2 separate regions of the Homo sapiens genome follow, and region 2 is linked to region 1. The links come from fine-mapping of genetic effects on gene expression. A gene starts in region 1. The other region holds a variant in brackets. All regions are shown on one strand. Distances are from middle to middle. Region 1 holds the start of SPG7 (SPG7 matrix AAA peptidase subunit, paraplegin). Region 2 overlaps SPG7 (SPG7 matrix AAA peptidase subunit, paraplegin).

Region 1 (15,557 bases):
TAACATGGTGAAAACCCATCTCTACTAAAAATACAGAACATTAGCCAGACATGGTGGCGCGTGCCTGTAGTCCCAGCTACTTGGGAGGCTGAGGTTGGAGAATTGCTTCAACTCGCGAGGCGGAGGTTGCAGTGAGCCGAGATCGCGCCACTGCACTCCAGCCTGCATGACAGAGCAAAATTCCGTCTCAAAAAAAAAAAAAAAAAATACACAGCAGGGACGGGGATGGTAAACCCAAACTGCATGCTTTCGTTCAAGGTTTCAAGGTGTGTATAAAGCAAAAGTACCTGTCCATCTCCAGATAATCTTGAACTTAACCTGATCAGCCCTTGTGCTCCCCAGCCAAAGCTCACTGAGCGTTCCAGAAACCAGAAAGGCATGCTGGTCTCTGGAAGGCTGCTGAAAGCACCCCAGGAAAATCCCAGCACCAGCCCAAGTCCACTCATGTGGTTCTGTTTGTCCATGGGTCCGCGAGGTGAGGAGGTCTGAAGTGGGCCAGCCGGGGTTCGGATTTTATGTAGAAATGACTACCTGTAGCTGGGTACGGTGGCTCACGCCTGTAATCCCAGGACTTTGGGAGGCAGAGGCGGGTGGATCAGGAGGTCAGGAGATCGAGACCATCCTGGCTAACACGGTGAAACCCCATCTCTACTAAAAATAGAAAAAAATTAGCCGGGCGTGCTGGCAGGCGCCTGTAGCCCCAGCTACTCGGGAGGCTGAGATGAGAATGGCGTGACCCGGGAGACGGAGCTTGCAGTGAGCCGAGATTGAGCCACTGCACTCCAGCCTGGGCAATAGAGCAAGACTCCATCTCAAAAAAAAAAAAAAATGAAATGACCACCTGTTCCTTGTCAAACCAGCCCTTTAAGTTACAACAAAAAGAAAGCCCTCCTCCTGCTCCATGTCCACACTGAGCCTGGTGTCTGCGGCCCTGTCCTGGCGTTTCAGAGGCCGGTCTGGAGACTCACCCTCATCGCCCTCAGCAGCTGGGCCACCAGCAGCCACATGCTGGCCTCTGCTGGCTTCTCTCTTCCTGGCGCTGCAGATCAGAGAACGCAGCCCAGAGTGGGCACCAAGACACCCCAGGCTTTACTGGATCCTCTGGGAGAACCAGCCCCATGCCTCGGTCCTGCCAGGATCCTTACCTTCTGGCACTGCTGCAAAAGCCTCCCTCCTCCCTGGCCTCACATTCCCACCTCTGGCCTCTCTAGAGTCCATTCTCTCAGCAGCCAGTCATGCTTTTACCACAGACTTTATTAGTCCTCAGCAGCACTCCCCCTCGGACTCTCCAGCATTCCCTGGCCGCTCCCCACTCCCCTGCTACCTGCCCCCTCCCAACTGGCCACACCCTGGCCATCAGTTAGTCGGACTGCAAGCTTGTCCAGTCCAAGAGACTAAACGGTCCAGTCGAGCCACTCCCAGATTCCTGACCCTCAGAAACAGAGTGAGATAAGCATTTGTTGTTTTAAGTTGCCACGTTGGCGAACTCGGAATGCACTGCCCAGGGCCGTGGGGATTCCCGTCACGTGGAGAGGACATAGGCTGTCCCTTCCAGGTCCTTAAACACCTGCCCAAAGTCCCACACCCAACAATCTAAAGAAACGCTGAGGAATACATGATTATTTAGTCATGCTCAAATTCCTGTACAGGTTTCTTGCTAGTAGAAACGGACTTTCCGCCAGGCGTGTTGGCTCACGCCTGTAATCCCAGCACCCTGAGAGGCCGAGACAGGTGGATCACCTCAGGTCGGGAGTTTGAAACCACCCTGACCAACATGGAGAAACCCCGTCTCTACTAAAAATACAAAATTAGCCGGGCGTGGTGGCACATGCCTATAATCCCAGCTACTTGGGAGGCTGAGGCAGGAGAATCGCTTGAACCCCGGGAGGTGAAGGTTGTGGTGAGCCGAGATCGAGCCATTGCAGTCCAGCCTGGGCAACAAGCAAAACTCTGTCTCAAGAAAAGAAAAAAAAAAAAGGAATGAACTTTCCATCTTCTTTTCTTTTTTTTTTTTTTGAGACGGAGTTTTGCTCTTGTTGCCCAGGCTGGAGTACGATGGCGCGATCTCAGCTCACAGCAAACTCCACCTCCCGGGTTCAAGCCATTCTCCTGCCTCGGTCGGCCTCCAGAGTAGCTGGGATTACAGGCATGTGCCACCACGCCTGGCTAATTTTGTATTTTTATAGAGACGGGGTTTCTCCATGTTGGTCAGGCTGGTCTCAATCTCCAGACCTCAGGTGATCCGCCCACCCTTTTTTTTTTTTTTGAGGTGGAGTCTCACTCTGTCGCGCAGGCTGGAGTGCAGTGACGCGATGCGATCTCGGCCCACTTCAACCAACACCTCCTGGGTTCAAGCGATTCTCCTGCCTCAGCCTCCCAAGTAGCTGGGGTTACAGGCGCCTGCCACCACACCCAGCTAATTTTCGTATTTTTAGTAGAGAGGAGGTTTCACCATGTTGGCCAGGATAGTCTCCCAACTCCTGACCTCAGATGATCCACCCACCCTCGGCCTCCCAGAGTGCTGGGATTACAGGCGTGAGCCACGGTGCCCAGCATTTTTTTTTTTTTTTTTTTTTTTTTTTTTGAGACGGAGTCTCACTCTGTTGCCCAGGCTGGAGTGCAGTGGCGCGACCTCGGCTCACCACAACCGCCACCTCCCGGGTTCAAGCGATTCTCCTGCCTCAGTCTCCCTCCTGAGTAGCTGGGATTACAGGCGCCTGCCACCACACCCAGCTAATTTTCGTATTTTTAGTAGAGATGAGGTTTCACCATGTTGGCCAGGCCGGTCTCCAACTCCTGACCTCAGGTAATCCAGATCCAACCACCTCGGCCTCCGAAAGTGCTGGGATTACAGGCGTGAGCCACCACGCCCAGCCCCATCTTTTAAAGAAGAATAAAATCTGGTTCTACATGGATGAGTAAAGCCCAGTTAACAAGTGATATAAGAAGAAACTGTTTCCTAAGAAAGAGCTTCAGGAAGAAAATGTACTAAAATTTACAGAGATGAACTCGTTTATTTTCAAGCATTCCACAAGGTAACATGTTTTATGTAAGACATCCTCATATTCAACACATACCTTATTGTTCTGCCTGACTTTGCTTCAGCAGGAGGAGTCGCCGTGGGGGCGGCTTTGGCCATCATTATGGGTGCTGCAGTCCAAGAGCTCTGGAGGCCAGGCTAACTGCAAAAGCAAATGTACTTAAAAAAATTTTTAAGTTTAGTTGCTGCCAAATTTGGAAAGAAGCAAATATGTAATTATTTGTTCAGATATTAATAAGGAAGCCTAGATTTTTTTTTTTTTTTTTTTGAGACAGTCTTGGCCTGGCGCGATGGCTCATGCCTGTCATCCCAGCTACTCGAGAGGCTAAGGCAGGAGAATCGCTTGAAGCTGGGAGGCAGAGGCTGCAGTGAGCTGAGATCGCACCACTGTACTTCAGCCTGGGCAACAGAGTGAGACCTTGTCTCATAAAAAAAAAGACAGGGTCTCACTCATCACTGAGGCTGGAGTGCAGTGGCAAGATCTTAACTCACTGCAGCCTCCACCTCCCAGGTTCAAGCGATTCTCATGCCTCAGCCTCTCGAGTAGCTGGAACTACAGGCATGTTGCCACCGTGCCTGGCTAATTTTTTTGTATTTTTAGTAGAAAGAGAGTTTCGCCGTGTTGGCTAGGCTGGTCTTGAACTCCTGACCTCAAGTGATCCACCTGCCTTGCCCTCCCAAAGTGCTGGGATTACAGGCGTGGGACATAGCACCCAGCCAGAAGCCTAGATCTTTTTTTTTTTTTTTCAGATGGAGTCTCTGCCTCCCAGATTCAATCGATTCTCCTGCCTCAGCCTCCCAAGTAGCTGGGATTACAGGCACCTGCCACCGTGCCCGGCTAATTTTTTCTATTTTTAGTAGAGACTGGGTTTTACCATGTTAGCCAGGATGGTCTCATCTCCTGATGATCTCGTGATCCACCGGTCTCGGCCTCTCAAAGTGCTGGGATTACAGGCATGAGCCACCGCCCCAGCCAGCCTAGATCTTAAAATCAAAAAAAGTCCCAAAGATCAACTTCTGTCTCTGGAATGTTAAACGTTACTGTTTGATAGATGAGGCAACTGAAGTTTGTAGAGCACCTTGCCTGAAGCTTCAGCCCACAGCAGGAATAAGGGACAGAGCCTAGAATGCTTCTGCATCAACAGGGAACAAAGGCATGGGGTCTCCTCTCTGTCCACCTTCCCTTCCCACAGCCCAGGCTGAAAGGGCTGCCCTAGGCGCTCCTGAGGCCTCCTCTCTTATGGGGCTAGAGCTGAGGGAACCTGGGGTTGGTAGCCATCCAGAGACCTAAGGCGTGCCCTGACCCAAACCAGGAGTCACCAAGAGACTGCCTCTAGAGAATAGGCGGGGAAGGGAAGTCACACCAAGTCCAAGCGCAGAGTTCAGAGGGCTGAGGAGGGGTGACGCGGAAGTACAAATGAGTAAGCAGCAGTTAGGAAGTGTGCCAAGTCCTGACGTGCAGAGTTCAGAGGGCTGAGGAGGGGTGACACGGAAGCACAAATGAGCAAGCAGCAGTTAGGCAGTGCAGGAAGAACACACAGGCGGAGAAGGGAAAGCGAACGTCCTGCTCTGCTGCAGGCTATGAGGGCAAAGGCAGACCCGGGAGCCCACTGTCCTACAGATCCTTCTTCTTGAATCCAAATCATGCAGCAAAATAAAAACAAAACCCCCAAACCATGGGGCACCCGAATCCTTAAACAAAACCCCTACTGCTTGAGGCTACGTGAGCCTCTGCTGCTGCCGCCACTACAGCAGGGGCTGAAGCTGAGAGCTGAGAGTCACGGTTCACCTGTAGGGCCTGGGATGCAGCCAGCCTTCAAAGCACGGTTGTTAGAGATGAGTTTGAATAAATGCATAAATACTCTGTTCCCATATCCTCATTTCCCATGACGTCCCAGTAATAACTCTGGATGCCAAGGCTTCCTGGCTCGTCAGTTGCCCTCACACACATTTATTGCATTTTATCTTCATAACCACCCTGTGGGAAACCCAAGGCTGATATTAGCCTTGCTTTGCAGATAATTATCATCCCCATTTTACCGCTGAGAAGATTGAGGCTTGAGGAAGCTAATAACTTGCTTAAGGTCATAGGCCAGAGGAGACAGAACCCAGTGTTCTTTCCCCAGAGGAGGCCTCTTGCCAACACCCCACACTGCTTCTGATGAATTGCCAGGAAACAATTTTAACTTATCTCAAACAATATTAATAGGACTACACTTAAACTCCTCCCAAACACATCCAAATGTGTGCCCTCACCCTCTCTCCAGCCTTGTCCCGTGACCAACCCAACCAAACTTCCGAAAGGGTTTTTTGTGTTCTAGGAAGTGACCGAGCCCCACAACCCTTTATGCCTGTGCGTTCAGAGGATTTGTGACCTTTTTTTTTTTTTTTGAGATGGAGTCTCGCTCTGTCGCCCAGGCTGGAGTGCAGTGGCGGGATCTCGGCTCACTGCAAGCTCCGCCTCCCGGGTTCACGCCATTCTCCTGCCTCAGCCTCCCGAGTAGCTGGGACTACAGGCGCCCGCCACAGCGCCCGGCTAATTTTTCGTATTTTTAGTAGAGACGGGGTTTCGCCGTGTTAGCCAGGATGGTCTCGATCTCCTGACCTCGTGGTCCGCCCGCCTTGGCCTCCCAAAGTGCTGGGATGAAGGGCAGGGAGAGGGAGGGGGAGGGCACCGCGCCCGGCCCACCTGGTGTCTTTCAATCAGGGAAAGAAAAAATAGTGGAGGAGGAAACGGCAAGGTTGGATTCACTGCGAAGGCTGACTGTACAATAAGAAGCAAAAGGAAAAGCGGTTCAGTTGTGAAAATCAGTGTCAGCCCTGGGTGTAGGGGAAGGTCCTCTCCACAAACCAACAGAACACCTCCCCAGCCCCGAGCACCTCTGCCGAGGCACCCGGCCCACTGGAGGGCTGAGGGCGGATAACCACGATAACTGAAAACACTTTCCTGAGCGTCTCGGGGCTGAGGAAGAGGGAGGATTACACGCAGCCCACTGGCTTTGCAACCTCGTCTGTAGTGGTGGAGTGAGTGCAGGTCCAGAAACAAACCAGACCGGCCTTGAAATTCTGCCCTAACTTCAGAGCTGTAATCCTAGGCAGGTTACTTTTAATACTTCTGAATCTTTCTTTACATGTAAAATAGAGGTATTGTATTCGCTGCACAGGGTTGTGAATATTACATGGGTGTTCGACACGGAGCTAGGCACTCGGTGATGTTGGCTGTCGTCACTGGCATTCACTGTTACGAATTTGCGGAGTACAGAAAAGCATAAAAATAAATAGGTCACCCTCATCCTACCTCTGTGACAGACCATCTAGTCTTTGCTTTTCCTACTCAACAAGCTTTCCAGCTCTTGGCGTCAGCTCTAGACCTAAGGCGGACGGAGGAAGGGGTCGGGGTGGCGGAGGACCCCGCGCGCCTGGGAGCCCACGAGGGACCCTGCCCGGGCCCGGAGGGCGGACCCTGAAGAGAACAGAGCCTCTTCCTAAGCTTCCAGACGGCGCCTCCCCGCTTCCTACGATGGGCTCGCGCAGCGGCCGGGGCAGGACCGAGGCTCGAAGCGCCTCCGAGGTGAGCCAGTCCGAAGGCACAGGACGGAGCGCTCCGAAGTCAGAGGTGTGCGGGACGAGCTCTGCAGACGCCTGCCAGGCCGCGCCGCACTGCGCGCTCCCTCCCTCACGACCCTCCTCCTCCGGGGCTGCCCTCCCTGCGGCGGCTGCAACTTCAGTCCTCGTCCTCGGGCGGCTCAAGACGCAGGAAAACCGCCCCCTTCCTGCGCTCCTCACACCCGAAGGGGCCCTCCCGACCCGAGGCCTCCGGCGCCGCCCTCCTGAGCGCGGGCCTCTACTCGCAGGCGGGATTCCGGCCCGCACCATCCGCCCTCGCCTGTGACCGAACCCTGCGGGTGACGCAGGCTGCCCGGGCGTGAGGCCCCTCGGCGCGGGCGGAGCACGACCACGCAGCCACGACCCGGCCGGTTATTCACCCGCCAGGCCCTGGGAATACAAGGCCGGCTTCAAAAAAACCAGGGCACCCGCGACCTCCTCGCAGACGCGCGCCCCCATACCCGGGCCTCAGGCAGCCACGAGGTAGACGGGCTCAGGCTCGGGGGTGCGGCAAGCGGCACCCGGGCGCGGCGGGGCGCAGCTGTGGGGACCGCGCAGGCGCCACGTCAGACCCCGCCCACCCCGCCGCGCAGGCGCCGTGTAGCGCCCCGCGGATCACGCAGGCGCGGCTTTCAGGCCAACATGGCCGTGCTGCTGCTGCTGCTCCGTGCCCTCCGCCGGGGTCCAGGCCCGGGTCCTCGGCCGCTGTGGGGCCCAGGCCCGGCCTGGAGTCCAGGGTTCCCCGCCAGGCCCGGGAGGGGGCGGCCGTACATGGCCAGCAGGCCTCCGGGGGACCTCGCCGAGGCTGGAGGCCGAGCTCTGCAGGTAAATCCCCGCGGAGTCCGGGCCCCACCTCCCGCCCGGCTCTGCTCTGTAAGGCCCAGCCCGGCGGGGCGGGTCGGAGGCCGCCTGGCCCCTGCGGCGGGGGAGCCTGCGCCTGTGGGCCCGCGGATCCCCCAGCTGTGGACCTCGGCGCGGAGCGACTGTTGGGGCCCTGGATCGTGGGCGCTGGGCGGGCCGGGAAGAGGCAGGGCTGGGATCCGCGCAGTCCTCGGCGTGGACTTTCCCAACCCGTCTGTTGTGTGTGGATGTTCTCCGCCCGTCTTCCTCGCCTTTTAAAGTGGAATCCAGTAACGGTTTCCGGCGTAGCACTAATTTACAGTCCACGCCTGTGGATCGATTCCGTCACCAGGAATTCCAGCGCCTTCCAGTTAGGGTGGTTATTGCCGAGTAGGGGGCCCAGAACGTTTCTGTGTCCGCAAAATACCCTGTAGCTGCATTTTGCTGTTGTCATGTAGCTCGGCACGTTATTGATACAGTCATTGAGCACCCCCTGTAGTGCGGCCTTGTTTCAGGTTCTGCTAAGGATAGGATAGCATCTCCTCCCGAAAACCAGACCTTGTGTCCTTCAGCTTTTGGGCTGATGTTTTTTTCTCCTAGCCCTCGCCTAGGAGCTTAGCCCACACCTTTTAGGTTGTTGTTTTTTCGGTTATTTTTGAGACAGAGATCTCGCTCTGTCGCCCAGGCTGGAGTGCAATGGTCTTGGCTCACTGCAACCTCCGCCTCCCGGGTTCAAGCGATTCTCCTGCCTCAGCCTCCTGAGTAGCTGGGATTACGGGTGCGCGCCACCACACCCAGCTAATTTTTGTATTTTTAGTAGAGACGGGGTTTCACCATGTTGGCCAGGATGGTCTCCATCTCTTGACCTTGTGATCCGCCTGCCTCGGCCTCCCAAAGTGCTGGGATTACAGGGCGTGAGCCACCGCGCCCGGCCATAAAACATATTTAAATGGGAAAATGTTTATCTTGAAAGGAGAACTCTGAAAGTATATACTTGTTAACTGGTTTGGTACCTGGAAATGTTCTACAAGGAGCCACTCTCTGGTGACAGCAGGAGCCCCGTGTCTGGGCAGCCACTGTGGCCTTTGGAGAGCTGGGCTGCTCCCTTTCTCCTGCAGAAGCTTCAGGCCATGGGATAGCAGCCAATGTACTTCTGTGTTTTGTTTTCTTCTTTTTTTTTTTTTTTTTTTTTTGTGACAATCTCGCTGTGTCGCCCAGGCTGGAGTGCAGTGGCCTGATCATGGCTCCCTGAAGCCTCTGCCTCCTGGGCCCAAGCAATCCTCCCACCTCAGCCTCCCAAAGTGCTGGGATTACAGACATGAGCCACCGTGCCTGGCCACTATCGTGATTTTTTGTTTGTTTATTTGTTTGTTTTTTGAGATGGAGTTTCCCTTTGTTGCCCAGCCTGGAGTGCAGTGGTGCTATCTCGGCTTACTGCAACCTCTGCCTCCCGGGTTCAAGCGATTCTCCTGCCTCAGCTTCCTGAGTAGCTGAGATTACAGGTGTGCACCACCACGCCCGGCTAATTTTTGTATTTTTAGTAGAGATGAGGTTTCACCATGTTGGCCAGGCTGGTCTCAAACTCCTGACTTCATGTGATCCACCCGCCTCAGCCTCCCAAAGTGTTGGGATTACAGCCGTGAGCCACCACGCCTGGCCAATTACTGTGTTTTAACCTGTTTACTTGCTTTTGACATTTTGATGTTACCTAAAGCTTTGACCTATTGCTCAGACTATTACTTTATATTTCAGGGCAATGTAGATATTACAAATAATTATATATTTGAACTTTTAAAAACGATTTTTAGTCTGCATTGCTTTGGTACTCTCTAATGTTGGTGTGACCTCCAGTATTGTTTTTTTTTTTTTTTCAGAGCTTACAATTGAGACTGCTAACCCCTACCTTTGAAGGGATCAACGGATTGTTGTTGAAACAACATTTAGTTCAGAATCCAGTCAGACTCTGGCAACTTTTAGGTATGTATCTGTTTAAAGAAGCAGCTGAGCATGACTGCACACTTACCGCCTCAGCTACTTGGGAGGCTGATCTTTTTTTATTTTAGAGACGGGATCTCGCCCTGTTGCACGGGCTGGAGTGCAGTACAATGGTGTGATCAGAGCTCACTACAGCCTAGAACTCCTGGGCTCAAGGGATCCTCCCCACTTTGCTTCCGGAGTAGCTAGGACTACAGGCGTGTACCGTCACACTCGGCTAATTGTTTTTTGTAGAGACAAGGTCTCACTTTGTTGTCCAGGCCCAAAGGGGCCTCTTTACTCCCTTATCCCCCAGTTGCAGAGCCTTGACCTCTTAGGCTGGAGTGATCCTCCCACCTCAGCCTTCCATAGAGCCAGGACTCCAGGCACACACCAAAGCGCCTAGCTAATTTTTGGGGGGTATTTTTTGTGGAGATGGGGTTTTGCCACGTTTCCCAGGCTGGTCTTAAACTCCTGGACTCAAGCGATCAGCCTGCCTTGGCCTCCCAAAGTGTTGAGATCACAGGCATGAGCCACCGCATCTGGCCAAGTTGTCCTTTTTTAAAAAAAATTCTGCTGTATTCCAGTAATTGGGCTGCTTGAAAAAGGTTTTTCGTGTTATCTAGTCAGCTGCAAGAATGTTTAGTAAGGATTTACAAAGTGGCTACAGATGTTTTATATCCACACAATCACTAAAAATACCCTGCAAATAATTTGCTCTTCAATAAATCATTTAATGAAACCTTGTGACATTCTTTGGTCTCTCTTGGCTTTAGGTTAAAGAACCTGAAGGATTGACACCTCTCACTTTTATTTCACGCTCCCCTTTATGGAGTTGGAACAGGGAAAAAGTAAAATATTTCTACTCCTAACTAACATTAAACAGCTTTGTGCCAACACATGGGTAGGGAGAGTGCCGTGCCCACTGGCCGTGCATCAGCAACTGGCTCATCTGCTGTCAGTGTTTAACGTCAGCTCACGGGTGCCTGTGGCTGTGAAACAGGAAGCACATGCTTCAGCCTCCTTAAGCCTGAGGTGACATGCAAGTGGCAACCGGGGCCGTTTCACTGGTGAACCCGTTCATGTCTTTGTGAAGAAAGTTACATTTCAGGTCATGGTTGTGAAACTCTTTCCCTATTTTTATTATTTTTTATTATTATTTGAGATAGGGTCTTGCCCTGTTGCCCAGGTGCAATCTCTACTCACTGCAGCTTCAACCTCCTGGGCCCAGGTTCTCCTCCCACTCAGCGTCCTGAGTAGCTGGGAAGTCAGGCATGTGTCACCACGTACAGCTACATTTTTGTGTTGTTGTTGTTGTTGTTGTTTATTATTATTTTTTTGAGACGGAGTCTTGCTCTGTCTCCCAGGCTGGAGTGCAGTGGCGCGATCTCCGCTCACTGCAAGCTCTGCCTCCAGGATTCCCGCCATTCTCCTGCCTCAGCCTCCCAAGTAGCTGGGATTACAGGTGCCCGCCACTATGCCCGGCTAATTTTTTGTATTTTTAGTAGAGACGGGGTTTCACCATGTTAGCCAGGATGGTCTCGATCTCCTGACCTCGTGATCCACCCGACTCGGCCTCCCAAAGTGCTGGGATTACAGGCGTGCGCCACTGCACCTGGCCTCCCCCATTTGTAAACGCTGATTTGTTCAGATTTTGAGACAGCTCTGTGTGAGGAGTGTCGTGCCGGCCCCTCTTGGTGGTGGCTGGGCTGCTGCTGTTGCCACTTGTCTGGAAACCATTTGTGAGTCGGAGTCTTGCTCTGTAAACCAGGCTGGAGTGCAGTGGTGTGATCTCAGCTCACTGCAACCTCCGCCTCCCGGGTTCAAGCAATTCTGCCTCAGCCTCCCAAGTAGCTGGGATTACAAGCGCCTGCCAACACGTCCGGCTAATTTTTGTATTTTTAGTGGAGACAGTGTTTCACCATCTCAGCCAGTCTGGTCTTGAACTCCTGACCTCGTGAACCACCTGCCTCGGTCTCCCAAAGTGCTGGGATTACAGGCATGAGCCACCACGCCTGGCGTGTTTAAGTTCTTTTAAAGCAACTTCATATATTAAAGGGATTCGTGATATTTTCCCAAATTTGTGTTCATAACTATTTTTTATTCCCTCACATTAGCAATTTAAGTAGCAAAGATATTTAACGTAAGTTAAAATAGTTTATTATTTTGTAATTAGGAAATACTGGACTAAGTGATATAGGATATGCTTTATTTCATATTTATAAATCTTATGGATATAAGTAGGTTTTTCAGATGGTTTTTGTTTTGCTTTGGTTATTTAGGAGTACACTGTTGTCCTGTATGCCTCCCCTGTGGTTGCAAAACTTAATTGTTAAATCCTTTCTCTATTTCTCATAGGTGGTACTTTCTATTTTAACACCTCAAGGTTGAAGCAGAAGAATAAGGAGAAGGATAAGTCGAAGGGGAAGGCGCCTGAAGAGGACGAAGGTATATTCATCTGATGTTCTTCAGTCAGTAGCTGCCTCTGGATGTCTTTACATTTCTGTTTTCCTTTTAGCAAGGTGAAACCAGTCTGGAAAATGGGGAGATGGGCCGGGTGCAGTGGCTCACACTTGTAATCGAAACGCTTTGGGAGGCCCAGGTGGAAGGATCACTTGAGGCCTATACCACATAGCGAGACCCTGTCTCACTGCAAATTAAAAGGCTGGGCGTGGTGGCTCACACCTGTAATCCCAGCACTTTGGGAGGCTGAGGCAGGCGGATCACCTGCACCCTGGCCAACATGGTGAAACCCCGTCTTTACTAAAAATAGAAAATTAGCCGGGCGTGATGGCACACGCCTGTAATCCCAGCTACTCGGGAGGCTGAGGCAGGAGAATTGCTTGAACCTGGGAGGTGGAGGTTGCTGTGAGTGGAGATCATGCCATTGCACTCCAGCCTGAGCAACAAGAGCAAAACTCCATCTCAAAAAAAAAAAAATTTAAATTTAAATTTAAAAAGACCCTATCTATACAGAAAGAAAAGAAGAAAATAATTGGCCAGGCGTGGTGGTGTGCACCTGTAGTCATAGCTCAGGAGTTGGAGGAGCTTGAGCCCAGGAGTTGGAGGCTCAGCTTCAGACTCACAGCCCCAGGGGGCAGAAGGGTTGAACTCAGCTTCAGGAATGCTTTGCTTTTGGATCCTTGAGGCCTCTCGCTGGAAATCAGCGTTGTTAAGATGGACGCCCTGCTCAGCAGAGCTCATCTTTCTAGAAAGGCACCTGGCCTTGGAAGGCGAGTGAGGAACTGTCATAAGGACTTTTTCTTCCCATGTTGCTTTTCAGGAAAGCTTTCAGGATGTGGAAATGATGGTTCAGCTATTGGATGAGGGGATTATTATTGTGAATTCGAGTTTAGCAGGAGTTTGTTTCAGGAGTGACGTCCTTCTTGATTGATTTTGTGTGAGACGCTGCATTTGCCAAGGCCAGGGACAGCTTTACTCTGTGAGAGAGGAGCTCTGACTCTCCCTACTGAGCTCTCGAGGGGAGGTCATAACTGCGGGAAGGGACACCAGTGTTTCGCAGGTGGATTCAGTTTAGGCGTTTCTGGCTTTAGGCTCATCTTCAGCTTACTGTTGGTTTTACGGTAAGTGTCAATGCTTACAGCCACTCAGAACTATCTTCTAAAAGACTTCTGAATCTTCATACAAAATTGTTCTGAATTGATTTCAGGGCTCTTTCCCTGTATACTTCAACATTTCAATAAAGTGTGTCCTTTGACTTTTTTTTTTTTTTTTTTTTTTTTTTTTTTTTGCCAGAATCTCACTCTGTTGCCCCGGCTGGAGTGCAGTGGTGCGATCTCAGCTCAATGCAACCTCCCCCTCCCGGGTTCAAGCAATTCTCCTGCCTCAGCCTCCGAAGTAGCTGGGATTACAGGTGCTCACCACCACACCCTGCTAATTTTTTGTTTTTTGTTCGTTTGTTTGTTTTTGAGACGGAGTCTCGCTCTGTCGCCCAGGCTGGAGTGCAGTGGCACAATCTCGGCTCACTGCAAGCTCCACTTCCTGGGTTCATGCCATTCTCCTGCCTCAGCCTCCCTAGTAGCTGGGACTACAGGCACCCGCCACCGCACCCGGCTAATTTTTTTGTTTTATTAGAGACTGGGTTTCACCATGTTAGCCAGGATGGTCTCGATCTCCTGACCTTGTGATCTGCTCACCTTGGCCTCCCAAAGTTCTAGGATTACAGGCGTGAGCCACCGCGTCAGGCCCTCTTTTTGTATAGTAGAGATGAGGTTTTGTCTTGTTGGCCAGGCTGGTCTCAAACTCCTGACCTCAGGTGATTCACCCACCTTGGCCTCCCAAAGTGCTGAGATTACAGGTGTGAACCACCGTGCCTGGCCTTGACCTTTTTTTTTTTTTTTTTTTGAGACGGAGTCTCGCTCTGTCGCCTGGGCTGGAGTGCAGTGGTGTGATCTCAGCTCACTGCAAGCTCCGTCTCCCAGGTTCACGCCATTCTCCTGCCTTAGCCTCCCGAGTAGCTGGGACTACAGGTGCCCGCCACCATACCCGGCTCATTTTTTGTATTTTTAGTAGAGACTCGGTTTCACCGTGTTAGCCAGGATGGTCTCAATCTCCTGACCTCGTGATCTGCGTGCCTCAGCCTCCCAAAGTGCTGGGATTACAGGAGTGGGCCACCGCACCCAGCCCTGGACCTTTTTTTTTTTTAACTTTTATTTTGTATTTATTTATTTATTTTTGAAACGGAGTCTCGCTCTGTTGCCCAGACTGGAGTCCAGTGGTGCGATGTCGGCTCAGTGCAACCCCTGCCTCCTGAGTTCAAGCGATTCTCCTGCCTCAGCCTCCTGAGTAGCTGGGATTACAGGCATGCACCACCATGCCCAGCTAATTTTTGTATTTTCAGTAGATACAGGGTTTTGCCATGTTGGCCAGACTGGTCTTGAACTCCTGACCTCGTGATCTCCCCACTTCGGCCTCCCAAAGTGCTGGGATTACAGGTGTGAGCCACCACGCCCGGCTGACCTTTTTATAAAAAAAAATTTGCTGGGTAGGTGCGGTGGCTCACACCTGTAATCTGAGCACTTTGGGAGGCCAAGGTGGGATGATCACTTGAGCCCAGGAGTTTAAGACCCTCATTTCTATTATTATTATTACTATTATTATTATTATTTTTTTTTTTGAGATGGGGTCTCGCTCTGTCGCCAGGCTAGAGTGCAATGGCACGATCTCGGCTCACTGCAACCTCTGCTTCCTGGGTTCAGGCGATTCTCCTGCCTCAGCCTCTCGAGTAGCTGGGACTACAGGCGTGCGCCACCACGCCCAGCTAATTTTTTGTATTTTTAGCAGAGACAGGGTTTCACCATGTTGGCAAGGATGGTCTCAAACTCCCGATGTCAGGCGATCTGCCCATCTTGGCCTTCCAAAGTGCTGGGATTACAGGTGTGAGCCACCGTGCCCAGCCTGGAGTTTCACTCTTGTTTCCCAGGCTAGAGTGCAATGGCGTAATTTCAGATCACTGGAACCTCTGCCTCCTGGGTTCCAGTGATTCTCCTGCCTCAACCTCACGAATAGCTGGGATCACAGGCATGCAACACCAAGCCCAGCTAATTTTTGTAGTTTTGGTAGAGACCTGGTTTGGCCACGTTGGTCAGGCTAGTCTCAAACTTCTCACCTCAGGTGATCCACTCGCCTTGGTCTCCGAAAGTGCTGGGATTACAGGTGTGAGCCACCACGCCCGGCCGTTCGTTTTTTTAATAAAAGAAGAAAGTTAGATCACTTGGGGCCAGGAGTTCGAGACCAGCCTGGCTAACATGGTGAAACCCCTTGTCTACTAAAAATACCAAAAAAAAAAAAAATTAGCCAGGTGTGGTGTACGTGCTTGTAATCCCAGCTACTCCGGAGTCTGAGGCGTGAGCATCGTTTGAACCTGGTAGGCAGAGGTTGCAGGGAGCTGAGATTGTGCCATTGCACTTCAGCCTGGATAATAGAGTGAGACCTTTCTGTCTCAAACATAAAAAATTAAGAAAGAAAAGGCCGGGCGTGGTGGCTCATGCCTGTCATCCCAGCACTTTGGGAGGCCAAGGCGAGCAGATCACAAGGTCAGGAGATCGAGACCATTTTAGCTAACACGGTGAAACCC
Region 2 (15,557 bases), 36 kb after region 1:
GAGCGTCGGCGCTGACCACACGCGGGAGCTGCGGAAGCCCAGCGGTTCACACAGGCCTCCCTTCAACGTAGTCATCCCCTGGTGGTGGAAGCAAGACGACGGCCCCTGACGTGCAGCCACACACAGAAAAGGCTGCTGTGAACATTTTATGCTTCGACTTTTTTTTTCTTCAGAGACAGGGTGTCGTTCTGTCGCCCAGGCTGGAGTGCAGTGCCACCATCATAGCTCACTGCAGCCTCCACCTCCTAGGCTCAAGCTTCCTAAGTAGTTGGGACTCAAGGCTTGAGTCACCATGCCAGGCTCTGTTTTTTCAGTCTGTGAAAAATAAAGTCATCAGCATGTGAGCTTGGCAGTGCTTGCCGTGAGCTCTTTCAGGTCCAGGCTCCCAGTGTCTGGGCAGTGAATGAGGTCCTGGGAAGCTGGGGTCCTGGTCCTGGTCCCAGTGTGACCCGGGACACCCCTACCTTTGTCCTTAATGTGGCAGTAAATGTATCAAGCACGCTCTGCCCTGGGAGCCGTGGACTGCCTGCCAGGTGGGTAGATGGGCGCTGGCAGAGGGAGAAGCTGAGGCCCAGCAGGAGCCGGCCGTCTGACTCACAACTCACGCCCGCCGACTGCCCCTGTACTTCCCTGGGGGTTGCGAGCACTGCCGAGCCCTGGGTGACGCTGGTGTGGCCAGGCTGGAGCGCAGAGAACCACACTTGGGGTTCAGAGTGTGTTCTCCCACTCAGAAGCATTGGCTCTGCCGGGAGCGGGATGGGGATGCAGCTTTCTTCCCCATTTTAGACCTCAGGTTGGAAGGGCGCACTCAGGTGGCAGCAGCCACTTCGGGTTGGGCGTCTCGTGCTGTCCTGGTGCGTTGAGACATCCCTCAAAGAAAGCACGAGTACCCTCCACACCCACATAGCCAGGGCATCCACTGTCACCACTCCATGTGGAAGTCCTGTTGGTAAAATCTTGACAAGAGCCATTTAGAGAGCACGGGGGGAAATTCTCCCAGGTCCAAGCAGAATGGACAGTGAGCCTGGGGGACGGATGGACAGGAGGAGGCCTGGGCTTCTGGGCTCCGCAGGCAGGGAGGGGCCGGCAGTGTGGCTTATTCCCCGGGTGGACGAGGAGCCCTGGGCTTCTGGGCTCCGCAGGCGGGGAGGGGCCGGCAGTATGGCTTATTCCCACTTGAGTCAGCTCTTGAGCACTTGCTCGTGGCCCAGAGGTGATGCTGCTGTTTCTGCCCTCTGTCCTCTCAGAGGAAGTGGGTGCTGGTTCAAGGATCTCAGGCTCTGAGCGGGAGAGCGGGGTCAGGTCTAGCTTCTGTCCGTGGCTTGCTCCCTGTGGTGCTGCCTCTGCCTGCCCTGCCGTCTTCCACATGCGTCTCCAACAGGGAATGGAAGGAGCCTCTGACCCAAAAACATCCCCCAAACTGTCGGGTCCTGCGGCAAGTTGAGGGCCTCTCAGGGGTCCTGTCTGCGGCCCTGTGGGAAGTGAGGCTGTGGCAGCCGGTCCTTTATCCTGAGTTTGGTTGCTTGTTTTTTGGACAATGTCTTAGGTCCCAGTGATGGTGGACCAGCAGGCAGCCCTGAACACTGAGGATACTGTGGGAAACCCAGGCAGGAGCTAAGGGGTGGGAGCTCAGGGCTTGGGGGTGCAGATCTCGAGGCCCAAGGGGCCATTTTCCCAGTGGGTGTCTTGACTGAGTTCTGAGTGTTTTCCAGGGCTCTGAACACAGCCCTTTTTTGGACATGTGGTTTACGCACTCTATGTGTCCCTTGTCCTTTCACCCTCTAACGGGGAACAGCAAAAGCTGCTCATTTTGATAAAGTTCAGTTTATCAATTTTTGCTTTTATAGATCTCGTTTTTACTGTGAAGTCTAAGAACTGTTTGCCCGCCGGGCATGGTGGATCACCTGAGGTCAGGAGTTCAAGACCAGCCTGGCCAATATGGAGAAACCCCATCTGTACTAAAAATACAAAATTAGCCGGGTGTGGTGGCGTGTACCTGTAATCCCAGCTACTTGGGAGGCTGAGGCAGGAGAATCGCTTGAACCCGGGAGGCGGAGGTTGCAGTGAGCCAAGATCGCACCATTGCACTCCAGCCTGGGCAAAAAAGAGCGAAACTCCTTCTCAAAAAAACAAATAAATAAAAGAACTGTTTGCCTATTCCTAGATCCTAAAGATTTTCTCCTGTGGGTTTCTTTTTTCTTTTCTTTGAGACAGAGTCTTGCTCTGTCACCCAGGCTGGAGTGCAGTGGTGCGATCATGGGTCACTGCAGCCTCAGCCTCTGGGACTCAAGCCGTCCTCCCGTCTCAGCCTCCTGAGTAGCTGGGACCACAGGTGTGTGCACCAACATGCCTGGCTAATTAAAAAAGAATTTTTTTTGTGTAGTTGGGGGTCTCACCTTGTTGCCCAGCCTGCTCTTGAACTCCTGGGCTCAAATGATCTTTTCACCTCAGCTCCTCAAAGTGTGGGGAATACAGGTGTGAGCCCCCATGCCTGGCCTCTCATGGGTATCTTATAGAAGTTTTATATTTAATCCATGATCTTATTTTAAGTTAACGTCTACATGAAGTGGGAGGTTTGGTCAGGTTCATTTTCTGCCTGTGGAAAAGTGCTCCAGCCCCACTGGTCTGAAATGCTGTCTTCTTTCCACCAAGTTGTGCTTGCACCTTTGCCGGAGCTCAGGTGCATGTGGGGGTCTGTGCTGGCTCTGTGAGTCTGTCCTTCCGCACACAACTGGTCTCTCGCTTCTGTGAGACGAGAGCAGGTGGAGTGATTCCTCCCACTTTGTTCTTTACCAGAATTGTTTCAGCTATTCCTTTGCCTTTTCCTGTAATTTTTAGAATACGCTTGTTCCTATCTACCAAAGTATCTTGCTGAGATTTTGATAGGAACACACACCTCTTAGGAGAGCTAGAGTAAAGAGCAGTGACCGGCCCAGATCTGGGCCATACGTGTGATCCCAGCATTTTGCGCGTCTGAGTTGGAAGCATTACTTTAGCCCGGGAGTTTGAAACCAGCCTGAGCAACATAGTGAGATTCTGTCTCTAAAAAAATACAAAAATTAGCTGGCAGTGGTGGTGCGCACCTGTAGTCTTAGCTGCTCAGAAGATTGAGGTGGGAGGATCACTTGAGCCTGGCAGTTCGAGGCTACAGGGAGCCGTGGTCACCCCACTGCACTCCAGCCTGGGCAACAGGGCGAGACCCCATCTCAAAAACAAAACAAAACTCAAAAAACAGTGACAACACCACACGCTGCTGAGGATGCAAAGAAACCAGATCCCTTGTACGCTGCTGATGGGGGTGTGACGTGGTGCAGCCTCACTGGGAAACAGTTTGGCAGCTTCTTAAAAAACTAAACGTGTGCTCACCATGTGACCCCGTGTCCACATGCGCTCACCACATGACCCCGCATCCACCCTCCTGGGTGCTCATCCCAGGAAAGCAAAGACTTAGGCTCACACGAAATGCCTGGGCGCCGACGCTCATTTACCTGTAATAGCTAAAAACTGGAAGTGACCCAGGTGCCATTCAGTGGCTGAGAGCTGAAACTGGTGTATCCTTATCACAGTGTTCTACGCAGAAATAGAAGAGCTGAAACTGGTGTATCCTTATCACGGCGTTCTACACAGCGACTAGAAGAGCTGAAACTGGTGTATCCTTATCACGGTGTTGTACGCAGAAATAGAAGAGCTGAAACTGGTGTATCCTTATCACGGTGTTGTACGCAGAAATAGAAGAGCTGAAACTGGTGTATCCTTATCACGGTGTTCTACGCAGAAATAGAAGAGCTGAAACTGGTGTATCCTTATCACGGTGTTCTACGCAGAAATAGAAGAGCTGAAACTGGTGTATCCTTATCACGGTGTTCTACGCAGCAATAGAAGAGCTGAAACTGGTGTATCCTTATCATGGTGTTCTATGCAGCAGTAGAAGGAAACTTTCTTCCTGCAGCAACAAGGAAATGACGCAAAGTGAGAAGAGCCAGGCTTAGTATCGTATGACTCCACTTGTACGAAATTGTCAAAATAACAAAATTCTGGGGATGGAGAACGGGTTACTGGTTGTCAGCAGTTAGGGGAGGTCTCCAGGGAGGAGGGATGCCTCTGGGGAGGGCGGTTCTGTGTCTTGAGGGGAGATGCTCGTTATGTGAACGTGCGTGTGACACAGGTGTCCATCTGTGGAGCACACACACAGGTGAGAGCACATAGGAGTGGGGGCATCTGAGCAGGGGCCTGGCGTTTCCATGTCAGTCTCCTGGCTTTGCCTTTGTTTTGCAGCTACTGAACGCACAGCTGCTGGGGGACCAGGGCCAAAGGGACTGCTCTGTGCTGTTTTTGCAATTTGTTGTGTGTCTGTTACCATCAGAATACAAAACTTAAAAAGTCACACCAGGGATCCGGTCCCAGAAAGTCCGTATCCTGAAACCGCATGTCCCTGACACATAGCTGCCCAGGGGGAGCATGTGTCCAGTCCCAGGAAGTCTGTATCCTGAAACCACATGTCCCTGACACATAGCGGCCCGGTAGGGAGCACGTGCCCTGCAGGGTGGCCACCCTGATACATAGCGGCCCGGTGGGGAGCACGTGCCCCGCAGGGTGGCCATCCTAACACATAGCGGCCCGGGGGGAGCACGTGCCCCGCAGGGTGGCCATCCTGACACATAGCCCGGTGGGGAGCACGTGCCCCGCAGGGTGGCTGGGCTCTGCTGAAGGCCGAGCTGTGCTTGAACCCGGCGCCGCCCCCTCTAGGAGCTCGCACTGCACCTCTTTGGCCTGGCTGCTGTTTTTCTTTGAGACCGGTGTTCCTATTACTTTTCCCATTTTTTTCACTGTTTATACAATCTTTCAGAATTCTGTATCCACAGCCCTGGCCTCTGCAAGGAAGGCGCTCCACGACACTGAGCAGTAAGCCTTGGCAGGCCTTCCAGACAGCTCTGGAGGGGCCAGCTTGGGTCCCAGTCCCCACCCTCCCCAGCCTCTTGTTCCTCGTGTCATAGTGAGACAAGGCACTTGTGCTTCTGCTGCCTGTTTTTGTTTCTGAGTTTATTTTAAAAGTCACCGTGATTTTAAGACACTGTCTTTGCCTTGGCGAGGTGATTCTCTTCTGTGATCTCCCTTGTAGAAATGTGACTGGGACTTAGCATCCCAGCTTATCACATTCTGACGTGTGGAACCAGGGAGAATGGTTGTGTCTTTCAAAGTTTCTTTGAAATTCGGGAGCGATTTGCTTGGGAGTGGGGTGTGTCTTGGACTGAGCTGCTGTCCAGACCTGGCGGCTACGGCTTAGTGAGGCTCAGGACAGTGGCCCTGGAGAAGCTGGTCAGGCCCCTCAGCCTCCTCAGAGCGTTCAAGGTCCTGTCCTAAGAACATGGGGTTGCTGGAGCCAGGGTCTCACTCCATTGCCCAGGCTGGAGTATAGGGGCATGATCATAGCTCACTGCAGCCTTCACCTCCTAGGCTCACATGGTCCTCCCACCTTGGCCTCCCAACGTGCTGGGATTATTAAGGGTTTCTTACATTAGTCACGGTAGATCCTGCTCTTACATTAGTCATGGTAGATCCTGTTCTTTTTTTTTTTTTTTTTTTTTTTTGAGACGGAGTCTTGCTCTGTCGCCCAGGCTGGAGTGCAGTGGCGTGATCTCGGCTCCCTGCAAGCTCCACCCTTCAGGTTCACGCCATTCTCCTGCTTCAGCCTCCGGAGTAGCTGGGACTACAGGCGCCCGCCACCACGCCCAGCTAATTTTCTGTATTTTTAGTAGAGATGGGGTTTCACTGTGTTAGCCAGGATGCTCTCCATCTGCTGACCTTGTGATCCGCCCTCCTCGGCCTCCCAAAGTGCTGGGATTACAGGCGTGAGCCACCGCGCCTGGCTATATCCTGTTCTTACATTAGTCACGGGTCCTGTTCTTACATTAGTCAAGGTAGGTCTTGTCGTATCTTTACTTTTAACACTGTTTATTGTGGACCTTTTCCTTTTTTTTTTTTTTTTTGAGAGTCTTGCTCTGTCGCCCAGGCTGGAGTACAGTGACACAATCTCGGTTCACTGTAACCTCTGCTTCCTGGTTCAAGCGATTCTCCTGCCTCAGTCTCCCGAGTAGCCAGGATTACAGGCATGCGCCACACCCAGCTAATTTTTGTATTTTAGTAGAAATGAGGTTTCACCCTTTTGGCCAGGATGGTCTAGAACTTCTGACCTCAGGTGATCCACCTGCCTCAGCCTCCCAAAGTGCTGGGATTACAGGCGTGAGCCACCGCATCTGGCCACCAGTGGATTCTTTTTTTTTTTTTTTTTTTTTCCTGACGGAGTCTTGCCCTGTAGCCCAGGCTGGAGTGCAGTGGTGTCATCTTGGCTCACTGCAACCTCCGCCTCCCAGGTTCAAGCGATTCTTCTGCTTTAACCTCCTGAGTAACTGGGATTACAGGTGCACGCCACCACACCCGGCTAATTTTTTGTATCTTTTGTGGGGTTTCACCATTTTGGCCAGTCTTCTCTTGGACTCCTGGCCTCGTGATCTGCCTGCCTCGGCCTCCCAAAGTTCTGGGACTACAGGCGTGAGCCACTGCACCTGGTGGACTGGATTCTTTTAAAGCAAACCCATAGTTTTGAATCTTATATGCTCTGAGTACGTTTCTTTAAATTCAGAGAAACACCACAGCATCATAACACCTGAACGTTCTTACGAGCATCCAGTCAGGTGTTCCCAGCAGCTTCATAAATCTCTTTT[C/T]GCAGTTGATTTATTCACATCAAGGGCCAGTCAAGGTTCACATACACCAGGGATCAGTGATCGTTTCTGGACTCACTTTTAAATTCTCCGATGACAAACGTCAAGCCTGAAACCCAGGGCCTAGGGCCAGACGTTGAAGATAAAATGTTTCCAAGTCACAGCCTAAAGCTGGGTGTTAGCTAAAATGTTACAAAGTCACAATAATGATGACAGGGCGGTGGGGGGTGGGGGGTGGCTGTTAGGACCGGCTCCCAGATGGCACCGTGAGGCAGGGAGAGGCTCCAGGATGCTGTAGGAGCTCCCGGAGGGCCTTGGACAGTTCTGCTGTTTGCACTTGTCAAAATAGGCAAATTCCTGTTCCTCCTGGTGATGCTGGCTGGGAGCGATGGGGGATCGCGGCTCCTAGTTCAGAAGGACCGGGCTGTTCCTTTCTCTCTGGGCCTTAGGGGGGTCTCTCTCCCTCCTGTGTCCTGAAGGGGAACCTGCAGGGGAAATCTGTTGTGTCAGGACCCCTACCCTCAGAGCCACTGTCTGCTCTGTCCCCTCAGGAATGGGTACCACAGACCATGTCATCGTCCTGGCGTCCACGAACCGAGCTGACATTTTGGACGGTGCTCTGATGAGGCCAGGCCGACTGGACCGGCACGTCTTCATTGATCTCCCCACGCTGCAGGTCAGAGCCAGGATCCCAGCCTCTCCCACTCCACCTGGGCCGCCCCCACTCGCTCTGAGTGGTCTGGCCTCTCCTCTAAGACACTTCTTGGTGTGAAGCCTGTCACAGCCCCACAGGTGCTGGCAGTGTCCAGCGTGGCCCCCGCATCGGCTGCACGCCCCCAGCAGACCTGCCCACCGGCTGCACTCACTGCTGTGGCCCCCACATTGGCTGCACGCCCCCTGGCAGACCTGCCCAATGGCTGCACTCACTGCTCGGGGTTTTGCAGTTCTGTTCACCTGCTATTGGTTTTCCTTTTATCCTGGGTATCAGTCTGGTTTTTATAGCAAATCCTTTGAAACAAAATCCAGGAGGAAAAATTGTGGGAAACTTTATTCTTGTGTGGCATCACTTCCTTCCATCCGTAGCGTGGGCTCTGGGGACGTGGACTGTGCAGCTGCCCTGAAATTGGGGTGGGAGTAGAAGTCCTGAGGCCTCTCGCCTGATCCCTCCTCTGTCACAGGGCTCTGGTTGGACGTTACACTTCCTGGCCAAAGGGCCTTTGTTGCTGCCCTGAGGGAGCAGGAGTTCAGCTCATGGAGCGGAGGGTTTGGAGAGAGGGCCTCCGGGTCTGCTGGTGGGTTAATGTTCCATCAGTGCAGCCTGGGGAGCAGGGCTGGGCTCAGCGGCTCTCAGCCGGTGCTCAGTCTCTGTTGGGATGGAGAGTGAAGGGCGGAGCAGAAGCCCTTCCCGCTGGGACACGGCTTCTCCAGGGGACACTGCTTCTCCAGGGGACATGGCTTCTCCAGGGGACACGGCTTCTCCAGGGGACATGGCTTCTCCAGGGGACACTGTTTCTCCAGGGGACACTGTTTCTCCAGGGGATGGCAGCTTCTCCAGGGGACACGGCTTCTCCAGGGGAGGGCAGCTTCTCCAGGGGAGGGCGGCTCCTGGCTTTTTGACTGTGTAAGAAACATTTTACATCAGGATTTAGACGCATGGAACATGTGTGGGAATTGGAAGTTTTGCAGAATAAGCATTTGCTGTGTGTGACGTGCTTCATTAGCTATTCTGCTATAATTTTTTCTTTTTTCTTTTTAATTTTTCTTTCAATTTTTAGAGAAAGGGTGTTGCGCTGTCACCCAGGCTGGAGTGCAGTGCTGCGATCACCACTCACTGCGGCCTCAACCTTCAGGGCTCAAGCTGAGGAGCTAGGACTACTATGGGCGTGCGCCGCCGTGCTGGTTAATTTTTAACAGAGTCTCGCTGTGTTGCCAAGGCTGGTGTCAAACCCCTGGCCTCAAGTGATCCCCACCCACCTCTCCTTCCAAGAGCGTTCTCTTTTTTTTTTTTTTGAGACAGTCTCACTCTATCCCCCAGGCTGGAGTGCAGCGGCGCGATCTCGGCTCACTGCAACCACCATCTCCCAGGTTCAAGTGATTGTCCCGCCTCAGCCTCCCGAGTAGCTGGGATTACAGGCACCCGCCGTCTTGCCTGGCTAATTTTTGTATTTTAGTAGGGATGGGGTTTCACCGTGTTGGCCAGACTGCCCACTTCAGCCTCCCAAAGTGCTAGGATTACAGGTGTGAGCCACCGGGCCCGGCCATCCAACAGTGTTCTGTTCGTGTTTAAAATGCTGCTTGTGGCCAGGCATGGTGGCTCACGCCTGTAACCCCAGCACTTTGGGAGGCCGAGGCAGGTGGATCACTTGAAGCCAGGAGTTCGAGACCAGCCTAGCCAACTTTGCGAAACCCCGTCTCTACTAAAAATACAAAACTCAGGCATGATGGCACACACTTGTAATCCCAGCTACTTGGGGACCCCCCCCCCCCACAGACAAACATGCCGCACCTGTGGCAGTAACTAGGCTTGAGCCCGACTGTCTTTCCTCCCCTGGTTCTGGCAGGAGAGGCGGGAGATTTTTGAGCAGCACCTGAAGAGCCTGAAGCTGACCCAGTCCAGCACCTTTTACTCCCAGCGTCTGGCAGAGCTGACACCAGGATTCAGTGGTACGTTCTCAACCCGCAGCCTGGGCAGCGTCACGTCCTGAGGGCAGGTGGTGTCACCTGCGCAAACAGCATCGAGGCCTCCTCTGTGGGGTGGGCGCTGCTCCTTCTCTGGGGGCCTCTGCTCAGTACAAGCCTGGGAGGGAGCTGATGTGTATGTGGGGCAGCAGGAGGTCCAGACGGCACCCGCACTCCGTCCTCCGCCCCGGGGTGGAAAAGCAGACGGTGGTTCCCGGTCTGTGTTGTTTCCAGAGATAGTGGAGTTATGTTGCTTCCACACAGTGACCAGTCATGCCGGCGTTTCCCGTCAGACCCAGAGTCAGACCACGCAGTCCCGGCAAAGCCGCCTCCCTCTGACCCTCACGGTCTCTGTCAAGTTGTAGAAATAGAAATCATACCTCAAGATGCTTTTCCTGCTGTGTGGTTCACATTTTAAAAGTTAATGTCAACAAACCTCCCTTTTATTATGAGATGAATTTGCCCTTTGATTATTCGTTAGGGTCTTTCACTAGAATTTTGTGGTTACTAGAGAGCCTTTAATTTCTTTGCCATCAATGCTCATGAGCTGTTAGGTGGAATCAGCCACAAGATGGGGTGTGGAACTAACTGCCCTTGGGAGGAGAGACGGGCGTCAGGGCGGATGGAGCCTGGCGGTTCTGTGTCTCGTCTGTGGAATGGCCTCAGTGGAACACGGTGCAAGTGCCTGCCGCTCTCCCCACCCCTGCTCCTGGCGCCGGCGCCTGCCGCTCTCCCCAGCTCTGCTCCTGGCGCCAGCTCCCCGTGCCTCTCTCCCAGACGCTCTCACCAGCACTCTTGGTTCTTGGTCTCTTTTCCCTCTTTGTTCTTCCTTTTATTTATTTACTTATTTATTTTGAGACAGAGTCCTACTCTGTCGCCCAGACTGGAGTGCAGTGGCGTGATCTTGGCTCCCCGCAGCCTCCGCCTCCTGGGTTCAACCGATTTTCCTGCCTCAGCCTCCTGAGTAGCTGGGATTACAGGCGCTCACCACCACGCCCGGCTAATTTTTGTATTTTTAGTAGCAATAGGGTTTCACCCTGTTGGCCAGGCTGGTCTCAAACTCCTGACCTCAGGTGATCTGCCCACCTCAGCCTCCCAAAGTGCTGGGATTACAGGGGTGAGCCACCATGCCCGGCCATCTTTGTTCTCCCTTGAGGGCCCCTTCCTCCTCTTAAGCCCTGATAGCAGAAACCCACCCACCCACACCGTGGCTGTTTGTGTTGACAGGGGCTGACATCGCCAACATCTGCAATGAGGCTGCGCTGCACGCGGCGCGGGAGGGACACACTTCCGTGCACACTCTCAACTTCGAGTACGCCGTGGAGCGCGTCCTCGCAGGTACAGGGGGCGCGCCCTGGGTGAAGGCCCTCCTTAGCAGGGCTTGAACCCCAGAAATACCCAGGCAGGTATTGAGAGGTGAGGTGGATGGAACCATCACACAGGAAGGAACACACGTTGCGTTTCAGTTCTGCGTAACTCATGTCTTTATGATACCTTGTACTTTTCCTTAGTTTAAAATATCACAGATTTACCTAAGAGTAGACGCTCGTCCAACAGAAATAAAAAATGCCTTGCCAAAGAAAGTGAAAAAATAAAAATAAAAAATGCCCCCCAAAAATAAAAATAATAAAAACTAAAAATGTCTTGCCAGCCTGGGTGTGGTGGGCTCAGCCTAGCCCCAGCCTCATGGGGGCTGAGCTCCAGCCGCTGACTGTGGGCCGGAGGGCTGCTGCCGCCCGTGGCTGTGGAGGGACAGCCGTGCTTTCAGCGCAGCAGGGGCTCTGCGGAGAGGTGTGGATCTGCAGCACCACCTCTGGTGAAACTCATGGTCCCGACCGTCAGTAGGAACGGGAGATGAGTTTTGGTGACGGGTGACCGGTGGGCTGACCGCCTCTGACTGCCGTTCCGTGGCTGCTCAGTGTGGGGTCTGCGACGTCTGTGAGGAGAGAGGACCAAACTGGGAATCGGAGCTGCTGGAGGTTTCCATAGCTATGATGGCAACACCCAGACGTGATCAGTCATCTCATGGAATGGAGTTCAGACCCGCACTGTCAGTGTGAGACAGGTTGAACGTTTGAAAAGGGAAGTGGTTCTTGCCCCAGGTGTTTGAGGAGCACGAGCCTCCTTTGCGAGCTATCCCTGCGAGAACCGAGTTCCTCACCCTCAATTCGAGTGAATTCCTAGCACGAACACGCCTCTTGCAGGTCCCCAGGGCTTCAGCTTGGGAAAGCAGTGGGTTCCTGCAGAGGAGTGGGGCAGCTGCTGTGCCAGACACTGCAAAACACACCTGGCTTCTCTCCGACAGCCCTGCGGGTCGAGAGGACTGGCGCTGCCTGTGTCTTACTGAAATTTATTTTCGTGTAACCATTTACTTTTATGTGGAAATCGAAAAGCTTTTGATAATAGTAGCAAAGCAGGAAGGACTGAGTGGGAACCACAAGCCAGTTGAAAGAAAATACATGACGTACTTGAGTGCTCAGGACCACGAGCTGATTCAAGTTGTACAGAATGGACACTTACAGATGTGTGGAAAATCTGAGACAGGAAATGAAGCCTCACCAGTAAGCTGAACAGGGGAGATTTAATGCAAACATTTGTCCCTGGCTGGGCACTGTGGCTCATGCCTGTAATCCCAGCACTTTGGGGGCTGAGGCAGGAGGGTTGCTTGAGGCCAGGAGTTTGAGACCAGCCTGGGCAATACAGCAAGACCCCATCTCTTAAAAGAAAAGAATAAAGAGTATTAGCCAGGCATGGTGGTGGAGCACACCTCTGGTCTCAGCTACTCAGGAGGCTGCAGCAGGAGGATTGCTTGAACCTGGGAGGTTGAAGCAACAGTGAGCCGTGATCGCACCACTGCCCTCCAGCCTGGGCAACAGAGTGAGACCCTGTCACTGACAGAAAAAAAGCCTTGTCCCTGAGGCAAAAAGCTTCTGAAGGGGTGAGTAGAAGCCATAAGGATCCAGAAAGTGATGGGGATGGGAGCTGCGCCTCCAGGTCTGAGGGGAGAGGGAAAGTAAGCAGGAGGCCCGTAACTCAGAGGAGGCCTCTGCCCATCCTGCCAGGGAGAAAGTCAAAAGCTGCTGTTCTGTGACCCTTGCCCCGACCCTGTGGCACCCCCCCAACCATGGGGCAGGAGGAGACACTCCTCAGAGGGTTGCACTTGTTCCTAAAAGCAGCAGGAGCTATTTCGATGATTGCAACATTTATAAAAGAAGAAATCACGACCTCCTTCAACAGCCCTTTGACCTGAAGAGTGTCGTTTTGAGTTGGGGTGTCCAGAGCCGCAGCTGCAGCTCCAAGAGGCAGATGTGCAGAGAGAGGCTTGCTTTGACCACACGGGGCAGGAGCAGGGCCCAGCCAGGGAGAGGCCGGGGTCTCAGCTCACCCCCCCGTCATTCTTTTTTGTTTGTTTTTTGAGACGGAGTCTTGCTCTGTCGCCCAGCCTGGAGTGCAGTGGCATGATCTTGCCCTACTGTAACCTCCGTCTCTCAGGTTCAAGTGATTCTCTTGCCTCAGCCTCCCAAGTAGCTGGGACTGCAGGCGCCCGCCATCACACCTAGCTAATTTTTCTATTTTTAGTAGGGACGGGGTTTCACCATATTGGTCGGGCTGGTCTCGAACTCCTGTCCTCAGGTCATCCGCCCGCCTTGGCCTCCCACAGCGCTGGGATTACAGGCGTGAGCCACCGCGCCCAACTCATACCCCGGCATTCTTTCAGGGACTGCCAAAAAGAGCAAGATCCTGTCCAAGGAAGAACAGAAAGTGGTTGCGTTTCATGAGTCGGGCCACGCCTTGGTGGGCTGGATGCTGGAGCACACGGAGGCCGTGATGAAGGTGGGTCTTGGCAGGTGCCGGCTCCACGGGCCTTGGCCAAAGGTGGGTGGGGAGTCCCGCCTGTGTCTGTAGCTGACTGGGGAGTCCCGCCTGTGTCTGTAGCTGACTGGGGAGTCCCGCCTGTGTCTGTAGGTCATGTGAGAGGAAAGCCTGCCACTGTCATGATCCATGGAGCAGGGTGGGTGGCGACTGATGGGCGGGAACTCGGACGTGGGAGGCAGGAGTGGGCTGTGTCACATCGGAGCATGGTGCTGCTACTGGGGTGACTCGTGGAAGGTTACACCATGCAATGGGGTTTCGCTGCCTTTGCCTGTCCACCCCAAATGACTCCTAACATTGGAAAGAAGTGAGTTGAGTGTACATTTAAAAAATACTATTCTAGGCTGGGCATGGTGGATCACCTGAGGTCAGGAGTTCAAGACCAGCCTGGCCAACAGGGCAAAACTGTCTCTACTTCAAACAAACAAACAAAAAACTACTCTTGTAGGCAGCTGTGAACTCGATGGACATTTATTCTTACCAAATGGTGATGTTACAGCTTCTCTAAGACGTGGCTCCACCACCGGGAGTCCGAGTGCTGCCAAGAGGAGGTCTCTACTCGGAACGCAGGTGCCGTCTTTACAGTGGAGCCCCAGGAAGCCGTGCAGGTTTGAGGCTCACCTGAGAAGGCGGCAGTGCTGTGTTCCTACCTCAGGGTTCACTGCAAACAATGCATACGCTGTAGCAGTTGCCAGCTTGGTTTGTCAGTGCTGGTCTCCGTGATTGGTTCTCAGGTGTGAGTTGTAGCAAAGTTGCGTGTTAATCAGAGAGCGTCCTGCCCATCCCAGGGTCTCAGCAGGGCTGAGGCAGCGTTTGGGGACCAGATCCGTGCTGCTCCTTGGCGATGTGCACCACAGTCATGGGACCAGAGCTAGGCCCACTGTGGGGCGAGTGGACACTCAGCTGGGGGTCCCATTTATGGGACACTAAAAAACTCAGCAGTGAACACGACGTTTTAACACGGTATGTCAAGAAATCAAAATTAATGCAGGGACTTTGGGAGGCCAAGGCGGGCAGATCACTTGAGGTCAGGAGTTCGAGACCAGCCTGGCCAACCTGGTGAAACCCCATCTCTACCAAAAATACAAAAGAATTAGCTGGGCGTGGTGGTGCGTACCTGTAACCCTAGCCACTTGAGAGGTAGAGGCACAAGAATCGCTTAAACCCGGGAGGCAGAGTCTGCAGTGAGCCAAGACTGTGCCACTGTACTCCAGCCTGGGTGACAGAGCAAGACTGTCTCTCAAAGGGAAAAAAAAAGAATTTTTACTGTATTTGATGGGCAAAAGTCAGATAGTCACAATGAAAAAGTGAGTCTCTTTCCCAAGGCTCAGTGTCCTGCCAGGAAAAGGTTGTGAATTGGCTGTTATGGTTTTGGTCATTAATGCAATCATCACTGCAGCCGTTATTTAGAGCTTCTTTTTGTTTTGAGACAGGGTCTCTCTCTCTGTTGCCCAGACCGGAGTCCAGTGGTGCGATCACAGCTCACTGCAGCCTCGACCTTCCGGGCTCACACGATCCTCCTACCTCAGCCTCCTGCATAGCTGGGACTACAGGCATGCCCCACTGGTGGCTCGAGTGATTTTTATATTTTTTGTAGCGAAGGGGTCTCGTTATGTTGCCCAGGCTAGTCTCGAACTCCTGGGCTCATGCAATCTGCCCACCTCTAACTCCCAAAGTACCGAGATCACAGATGTGAGCGACCCCGCCCAGCCTAGTTTTAGATTTTAAATTAAGCGTCCTCGGGATTCTCAGAGCACTTGGATGTGGCCATCTCGCCGCCACAATTCTCAGAAGCAGCAGCTGGGCCAGCCCCTGCCCCGTCTCCGTCCGTCTCCCACTCAGCGGTTCCGTGTTGTCGAGTTAGCTCGTTGCCCCGCGCCACCTCCTTGCACACCTGATGTGGGGCTGTGGGGGAGCAGCAGAGGTGAGGACAGCCTCTGCTGCCTCAGCATCGTGGGGTTCTCATTGCTCTGAACCCTCAGTAGCTGTCGCTGGTGTGAGGGGTCAGCGCAGCGGCCATCGGGGGTGAAACTTGTCCTTCGCCTCTCAGCTGTCTTCTACGGGCCTTGTCTTCTTGACTCCCTGCCTGTCTAGTCATGTATGAGAAGACACTTCCCGGCAGTGTGTGAACAGGCACCTGTGGTGGGAACGCTGCTGTCTCTGGGCTGGCCATCTAGAGTGTTAGGATCCCCTGTTGTTGTAGAGGATGCTGCACATTTGCCTTCCTGCTTTGAGACGCTTTAATGACGGAGACCTCTTAGTCCCACACCTTCCTCCTCAAAGCCC

Evidence for each region. PIP is the estimated chance that this variant, and not a neighbour inherited with it, causes the effect.
Region 2: its variant is fine-mapped to the expression of SPG7 in whole blood (TOPMed, PIP above 0.99).

The regions. Positions count from the first base shown.
Region 1 is chr16:89,501,130-89,516,686 of GRCh38, forward strand. SPG7 (SPG7 matrix AAA peptidase subunit, paraplegin) reads left to right here and starts at 7,274. Exons shown (of 17, transcript NM_003119.4): 1 at 7,274-7,471; 2 at 9,361-9,463; 3 at 11,819-11,908. The coding sequence starts at 7,289. LOC101927863 (a long non-coding RNA gene) reads right to left here and starts at 7,191. Exons shown (of 5, transcript NR_188547.1): 1 at 7,108-7,191; 2 at 4,830-5,018; 3 at 3,916-4,024; 4 at 3,078-3,182. RefSeq lists an enhancer at 4,719-4,768 and silencers at 6,588-6,657, 6,778-6,987, 7,058-7,617, 7,648-7,767.
Region 2 is chr16:89,537,378-89,552,934 of GRCh38, forward strand. It overlaps SPG7 (SPG7 matrix AAA peptidase subunit, paraplegin), which reads left to right. Exons shown (of 17, transcript NM_003119.4): 10 at 7,271-7,395; 11 at 9,281-9,383; 12 at 10,626-10,736; 13 at 13,117-13,232. Among named protein-coding and RNA genes, the nearest start is that of RPL13, 16 kb to the right of the region's middle. The variant C/T (reference allele first, on the strand shown) is at 6,723.